Homo sapiens: one gene and its partner. The protein of the gene in region 2 interacts with the protein of the main gene of each other region in a pairwise test. Each region holds a gene or a part of one and is shown on either strand. Other genes may lie near its edges. The genes, in order: DHX29 and PISD.

What was found.
Region 1: the proteins of PISD (region 2) and DHX29 interact in a two-hybrid assay, tested with the Homo sapiens proteins (one large-scale study listed by BioGRID and IntAct).

What each region holds. Positions count from the first base shown.
Region 1 is NC_000005.10:55,297,436-55,301,254, forward strand, and holds part of DHX29 (ATP-dependent RNA helicase DHX29), read right to left. Parts: intron 1,230-3,819; coding exon 1,156-1,229; intron 1-1,155. UniProt on the Homo sapiens protein: ATP-binding RNA helicase involved in translation initiation. Part of the 43S pre-initiation complex that is required for efficient initiation on mRNAs of higher eukaryotes with structured 5'-UTRs by promoting efficient NTPase-dependent 48S complex formation.
Region 2 is NC_000022.11:31,655,594-31,659,412, forward strand, and holds part of PISD (phosphatidylserine decarboxylase proenzyme, mitochondrial), read right to left. Parts: intron 1-3,819. UniProt on the Homo sapiens protein: Catalyzes the formation of phosphatidylethanolamine (PtdEtn) from phosphatidylserine (PtdSer). Plays a central role in phospholipid metabolism and in the interorganelle trafficking of phosphatidylserine.

The DNA of each region.
Region 1 (3,819 bases), on a different chromosome or scaffold from region 2:
AATTATTAAAAAATTAAAAGCCAATCATACAGTTTTCTATATTCCTGCCAACCAAGCCCAAAATTTCAGCTAAAATCAGATACAGTAATTATCATTTTTTGGACTACCACCCATTTGACCACATTCCTATCATTTCTTTAAGAAAAAATGTGATATGAAAAAAGCAACAAGATAACACATGGCAAGAAAAAGCCTCTTGAGGGCAATGTCACGAGACATTGTCCTTGGACCACCCTTGGGTTGCTGTCACAAAGATTCCTAAGTTCTATCCCAAACATACTGAATCAGAATTCTTGGAGGGATTTAATGTAAACCACTGCAAGCACACAACCTAAAAGAATGAACACTATACTAAAAACGGGTATAACAAGTAAAACTGAAAACTAAATATGTCGTAATAAGCTACACAAATTCTTTTGGCTTCTAGACTTTGATTCCTACTTTTTCCTACTAGCCATTTTATTTTCTGTTCTTTTGTTATTTTTGACCTAAGAGTACACAAGCATCTACTTACAAAAATATCTTCCCTTTGTTACTTTTTAACTAAATGCCTACTATAAACTAAGCACAAAAATATAATTCAGAAATTCACAGTCTAGCCCAGAAAATATATATAAAGAGACAAATTATAACCCAGCATGGCAATTCTCAAAAAAGATATATCAAGTAATAGTAGAACCACCAAGAAAATCAACTTGGCGGTTGATAAAGGACTTCATAGAGGTCACAGAGGTGACAAATAAAAAGGGGAAATAAGGGCACTCTACGCAGAGAGTACATGGGTAAAAGCTAGAAGTTGTAAAATCACGGATTTAGAAGAACAAATGAGATATTCATGAGATGTCCCATGAACTAAAATATTAAGTAGAGATCAGAGTAGCAGAGAGGAGGGTGAAACGGTATTCTAAGACAGACCTGAAAAAATGTATATGCCATGCTTAAGAAGTTTAGATCTTAACCAGGCCTTCCTTCATTTCTTACTGTCTCTCAACATATGTGTATGATTTACTTATTTTTAGTAGAGATTAGCTCTTAGAGTACTATTTACAAAAATTTAAAACACCCCATCATTTTCTTACATTTAAGGATACATCTTTTTTGGGGGAAAAAAGGGGGAAACATTTCTTGAAATGACTCAAAACCTTTGTTACTTACTTTCAAAATAGATTTATCCAGATTTGCAGGACCACTAGAATCATTTGTAGAATTAAAACTATAAATTTTTGGACCTGTAAATACAAATAGACAAGGCAATTTAATGATTAATATCTATTACATTATTTTAATTTTCCTCTAAAGAATGCTAAATATTAGGCCGGGCGCGGTGGCTCACGCCTGTAATCCCAGCACTTTGGGAGGCCGAGGCGGGTGGATCATGAGGTCAGGAGATCGAGACCATCCTGGCTAACAAGGTGAAACCCCGTCTCTACTAAAAATACAAAAAATTAGCCGGGCGCGGTGGCGGGCGCCTGTAGTCCCAGCTACTCGGGAGGCTGAGGCAGGAGAATGGCGTGAACCCGGGAAGCGGAGCTTGCAGTGAGCCGAGATTGCGCCACTGCAGTCCGCAGTCCGGCCTGGGCGACAGAGCGAGACTCCGTCTCAAAAAAAAAAAAAAAAAAAAAAAGAATGCTAAATATTAAATATTTGATTTCAGCTTTTTTCCCCAATACTTCACCAAATAACTCAATCTAGTAGCTAGCAATATCCTCTCTAAATTTTCAACATTTTACCAATTAGCATTACTCCATGTTAACCAGTTTCTCATAAAATGCAAATGCCTACATATCTTTTAGGTTAAATCTATCTTTATCCTCATATCTTTTAGTCAGATGCTTTTCTCCTGGCACTTAGCTGAGGCAAAACTTCTAAGATATGATTGTTGGCAGAGTAGATGGACAATTTTAAAGAGAAAGCACTCTTTCTTGAAGGTGGTATGCTAAGTGAAAAGGGAGGTGGGAGTTCCTATCATCTTTTCTCCTTGAACTCAAGTCCAGGGTTGCTATAGTTTCCTAGGGCTGCCATAACAAATTACCACAAACTTGATGGCTGAATACAGCAGAAATTTATTCTCTCACAATTCTGGAAGCTAGAACTCCAAAATCATGGTGTGAGCAGGACCATGCTCTCTCTGAAGGCTCTAGGTAAGAATCGTTCCTTCCCCCTTCCAGCTTCTGGTGGCAGCATAACACCAGTCTCTGCCTCCTCATTCACACGGCCTTCTTCCCTTTCTCTGTGTCCAAATGTCCCTCTCCTTTCTCTTGACATTCATTATTGGATTTAGGAATCACCCTAAATCTAGTATAATTTCATCTCAAGATCCACAGATCTGTAGAGCTTATTTCCAAACAAGGTCACATTCTGAGGTTCCAGGTGGACATGAATATTTGGGGGGACACTACTCACTCAACCCACTACAGTTGCCAAGTCTGTTCCAGTGAACAGAAACGCTGTCTAGTCTCAGTCCTTTAACAATGAGTAACCAGGAAACAACACACATTATTTTCAAACTTTTGGTCTCATGACCCCTTACTCTCTTAAAAATTACTGAGGATCCAAATAGTTTTTGTTTATGTGGGTTATGTCTATTGATACTTAGTATATTATAAATTAAAAGGGAAATTTTAAAACATTCATTCACCAAAAATAATAAATCTGGCCAGGCGCAGTGGCTCATGCCTGTAATCCCAGCACTTTGGGAGGCTGAGGTAGGAGGATCTCTTGAGCCCAGGAGTTTGAGAGCAGTCTGGGCAATATAGTGAGACTTTGCCTCTACAAAAATTATCCAGCTGTGGTAGCACATGTCTGAAGTCCCAGGTACTCAAGAGGCTGAGGCAGGAAAACTGCTTGAACCCAGGAGTTCAAGGCTGCAGTAGTAGCTACAGTGAGCTGTGACTGCAACACTGCACTCCAGCCTGGGCAACAGAGTGAGACCCTGTCTCTAATAATAATAATAATAGGCCAGGTGTGGTGGCTCATGCCTGTAATCCCAGCACTTGGGACGCGGAGGCGGGCAGATCACATGAGGTCAGGAGTTTGAGACCAGCCTGGCCAATATGGCAAAACCCCATTTCTAGTAAAAATACAAAAATTAGCTGGGCCTGGTGATGCATGCCTGTAATCCCAGCTACTTGGGAAGCTGAGGCAGGAGAACTGCTTTAACCCAGGAGGCAGAGGTTGCAGTGAGCCGAGACTGCACCACTGCACTCTGGCCTGGGAGACAGAGCGAGACTCTGTCTCAAAAAAACAAAAGGACCTCAACAAAATAATAAAAATAAACCTGTTCCATTAATATAAATGATGCTTAAGATGAAATGTGACTATATTTTTCAAGACAAAAAATAATATCCGTTTTTGCAAATCTCTTTAATATCTGGTATCTTAGTCTGCTCAGACTGCCACAACAAAATACCACAGACTGCTGGATGGCTTCACCATCAGAAATTTATTTCTCATAGTTCTGGAGGTTGGGAAGTCCAAGATTAGGGTACCAGCAAGGGAGGTTTCATTCTGAGGCCTCTTCTCTTGGCATGTAGGTGGCCATCATCTTGCTATATGTTCACATGGCTTTTTTCTCTGTGCTTACTCAGAGAAACTGAGCTCTCTTGGGTATCTCATTTTATAAGGACACTAATCCTGTTGGATCAGGGCCCCATCCCTGTGATCTCATTTAACCTTATGTACTTCCTTAGAGCCCTTATCTCCAAATATAGCCACACTGGGGGTAAGGGTCTCAACATACTAATTTTTTGAGGACACAAACATTCAGTTCGTAACATCTAGCTTCTGCATTCAATCTGCCGTAACATTACACATCATGTA
Region 2 (3,819 bases):
CAGGCATGAGCCACTGCACCAGGCCAGGACTCGTTTTTGTTTTGTTTTGTTTTGTTTTTGAGATGCAGTCTCGCTCCGTCACCCAGGCTGGAGTTCAGTGGCGTGATCTCAACTCACTGCAACCTCCGCCTCCTGGGTTCAAGCAGTTCTTCTGCCTCAGCCTCCCAAGTAGCTGGGATTACAGGCACAAGCCACCACACCCAGCTAATTTTTGTGTTTTTTTAGTAGAGACAGGGTTTCGCCATGTTGGCCAGGCTGGGCTCGAACTCCTGACCTCAAGTGATCCACCCACCTTGGCCTCCGAAAGTGTTGGGATTACAGGCATGAGCCACTGCACCCAGCCCAGGACTCATTTTTAAGTCCTTTCTTTCTCATCATCCACATTCAATCCACTGGCAAGGCAATGAAAACTACCACTGGCCAGGCTCAGTGGCTCACGCCTGTAATCTCAGCACTTTGAGAGGCTGAGGCAGGTGGATCACCTGAGGTCGGGAGTTTGAGACCAGCCTCGCCAATATGGTAAAACCCCGTCTCCACTAAAAATACAAAAAACTAGCCAGCCAATATGGTGAAACCCCGTCTCTACTAAAAATACAAAAAATTAGACGGGTGTGATGGTGGTGGCCTATAATCCCAGCTACTTGGGAGACTGAGGCAGGAGAATTGCTTGAACCCAGGAGGTGGAGGTTGCAATGAGCCAAGATCACACCACTGCACTCCAGCCTGGGCATGACAGAGCGAGACTCTGTCTGAAAAAAACAAAAAAATAAAGGCCGGGCATGGTGGCTGACGCCTATGAGAACTCCCAGCACGTTGGAAGGCCAAGGTGGGCAGATCACGAGGTCAGGAGTTCGAGACCGGCCTGACCAACATGGTGAAACTCCATCTCTACTAAAAATACAAAAATTAGCCAGGTGTGGTGGTCGGTGCCTATAGTCCCAGCTACTCAGGACGCTGAGGCAGAAGAATTGCTTGAATCTGGGAGACGGAGGTTGCAGGGAGCCGAGATCGCACACTGCACTCCAGCCTGGGTGACAGAGCAAGACTGCGTCTCAAAAATAAATAAATAAATAAATAAATAAATAAATAAACAAAACAGAAAGACAAGATCCCACATCTTGTCAGCCTCTCAGATCTCTAGCTACTTTCCCTCTCTTCCTCCTCACTCACTCCTCTTGCCGCTCCTTGTCCACACCACATGTGCCCCTTTCCACACTCCTCCATTTGCTGTTTGCTATGCTGGGCACACCCCTCTCCTATGTGGCTCACTCCCACATCATTTAGTTCTCTGCTCAAATGTTACCTCCTCAGTGCAGTTTTTCCTGAGCACTGTATGCCCAAGAGTTGGCCCTCTTGAACACTAACTTCTTAATTTTTAAAAAAAATTTTTCTGGGTATGTAGTAGGCATATATATCTATGTGTTACATGAGCTAGTTTGATACAGGCACGCAATATGGAATAATCACATTAGGTAAATGGGATATCTATCCCCTCAAGCATTTAAGCTTTGTGTTACAAACAATCCAGTTATACTCTTTTAGTGTTTTGTTTTGTTTTTTTGAGATGGAGTTTTGCTCTGTCGCCCAGGCTGGAGTGCAGTGGCATGATCTCAGCTCACCGCAACCTCCGCCTCCTGGGTTCAAGCAATTCTCTGCCTCAGCCTCCCGAGTAGCTGGGATTACAGGCACCCACCACCATGCCTGGCTAATTTTTTGTATTTTTAGTAGAGATGGGGTTTCACCTTCTTGGCCAGACTGATCTTGAACTCCTGACCTCGTGATCCACCCGCCTCAGCCTCCCAAAGTGCTGGGATTACAGGCGTGAGCCACCGCACCCAGCCTTTTAGTTATTTTTAAATGTAATAATTTTAAATTATTTTTGACAATAGTCACCCTGTTGTGCTAGCAAACACTAGGTCTTATTCATTTTATTTTATATATTTTTTTGAGATGGCATCTTGCTCTGTTGCCCAGGCTGGAGTGCAATGGCGCAATCTCAGCTCACTGCAACCTCTGACTCCCAGGTTCAAGGAATTCTCCTACCTCAGCCTCCTGAGTAGCTGGGATTACAGGAGCACACCACCACACCCGGCTAATTTTTTTTTGTAGTTTTAGTAGTGACAGGGTTTGTTGGCCACGCTGGTGTTGAACTCCTGACCTCAGGTGATCCACCCGCCTGGGCCTCCAAAGTGCTGGGATTACAGGCGTGAGCCACTGCACCCAGCCCATTTTATTTTTTTGATACCCATTAACCATCCCCATTTCTTCCCATCCCCCCACTACCCTTTCCAGCTTCTGGTAACCATCCTTCTACTATCTCCATGAGTTCAACCGTTTTAATTTACAGCTCCCACAAATAAGTGAGAACATGCAAAGTTTGTCTTTCTGTTGAGCACTAACTTCTTAATTATCTTGCTTTCTTTTTCTTCATGGCATTTCTTATTACACAAAATGAATGGATTCTGCATGTATTCAGTTATTTGTTTACTGTATGTATACCTCGATGAACACGGGGTTTATCTGTGTTCTCACTGGCCTTCAATCTCAATAGTGACAGTATGCCCCAGAAAGATGAATGGATGGGTTCAAACAGATGTCTCTTCTACATGCATTCTACATCGCATCCTTCAAGTAGGCAATTAAAGCCCACAATTGAGCACTCCAGTCTGCCTGTGCAACTCAAATCTCAGCGCTGCCACTTCTTAGCAGCTGTGTGACCTTAGGAAATTTCTTAACTAATCTTAAGCCTCAGTTTCTCCACCTGCAAAAACAAAACTCACCTCATTAGAAGACAATCATGCAAAACCTTAGCTCAGGGCCTGGCACCTAGTTAGACTGTTATTATTAAGAGTTGATATTCAGCTGACATACACTGAGATGGTCATATCAATCATCTATGACCAGCATTCACTCTCACTAGTCTGTCTCCATGGCATCCTGGTTATAAGTTTGTTTGTTTGTTTGTTTGTTTTTTGAGACAGGGTCTCACTCTGTCACCCAGGCTGGAATGCAGTGGTGAAATCACAGCTCACTGCAGCCTCGACCTCCTGGGCACAAGTGAACCTCCCACCTTAGCTTCCCAAGTAGCTGGGACCACAGATGTGCACCCAGCCATTTTTTGCGGAGAGGAGGTCTCACTATGTTGCTCAGGTTGGTCTCGAACTCTTGGGCTCAAGCAATTCTCCTGCCTCAGCCTCCCAAAGTGTTGAGATTACAGACATAAGCCACCACACCTGGCCAGTTGCACTATTTTTTCTTTTTCTTTTTTTTTTTTTTTTGAGACAGGGTCTCACTCTGTTGCCCAGGCTGGAGTGCAGTGGCATGATCTTGGCTCACTGCAGCCTCAACCTCCTGGGCTCAGGCAATCCTCCTACCTCAGCCTCCCAGGTGGCTGGGACTACATGTATGCACCACTATGACCAGCTAATTTTTGTGTTTTTTGTACAGATGGGTTTTTGCCATGTTGCCCAGGCTGGTCTTGAACTCCTGAGCTCATGCAATCCACCCGCCTTAGCCTCCCAAAATGCTGGGATTACAGGCATGAGACACCACGCCCAGGCCTAAGACATTTTTAACATCACCCCTAGTAGTAACATTTTGCCTATAGTCCTTATGTCTCCCTTGCTTTCTAAAGCTGTGAAAGTTCTCCTAAAACAGAACGGACAGACCTCTTGAAGGCTTTATCCCGTATTCCACCATGTATTACAAGTATATAGTAAAGTTCCTTGAAGACAAGGCCTATTTCAAATGTTTTTAATTTCTTCATTTGCTCCCCTTCCCTTCTCTCTTCTCCCTTCTCTATGGTCCGTTGACAGTGTG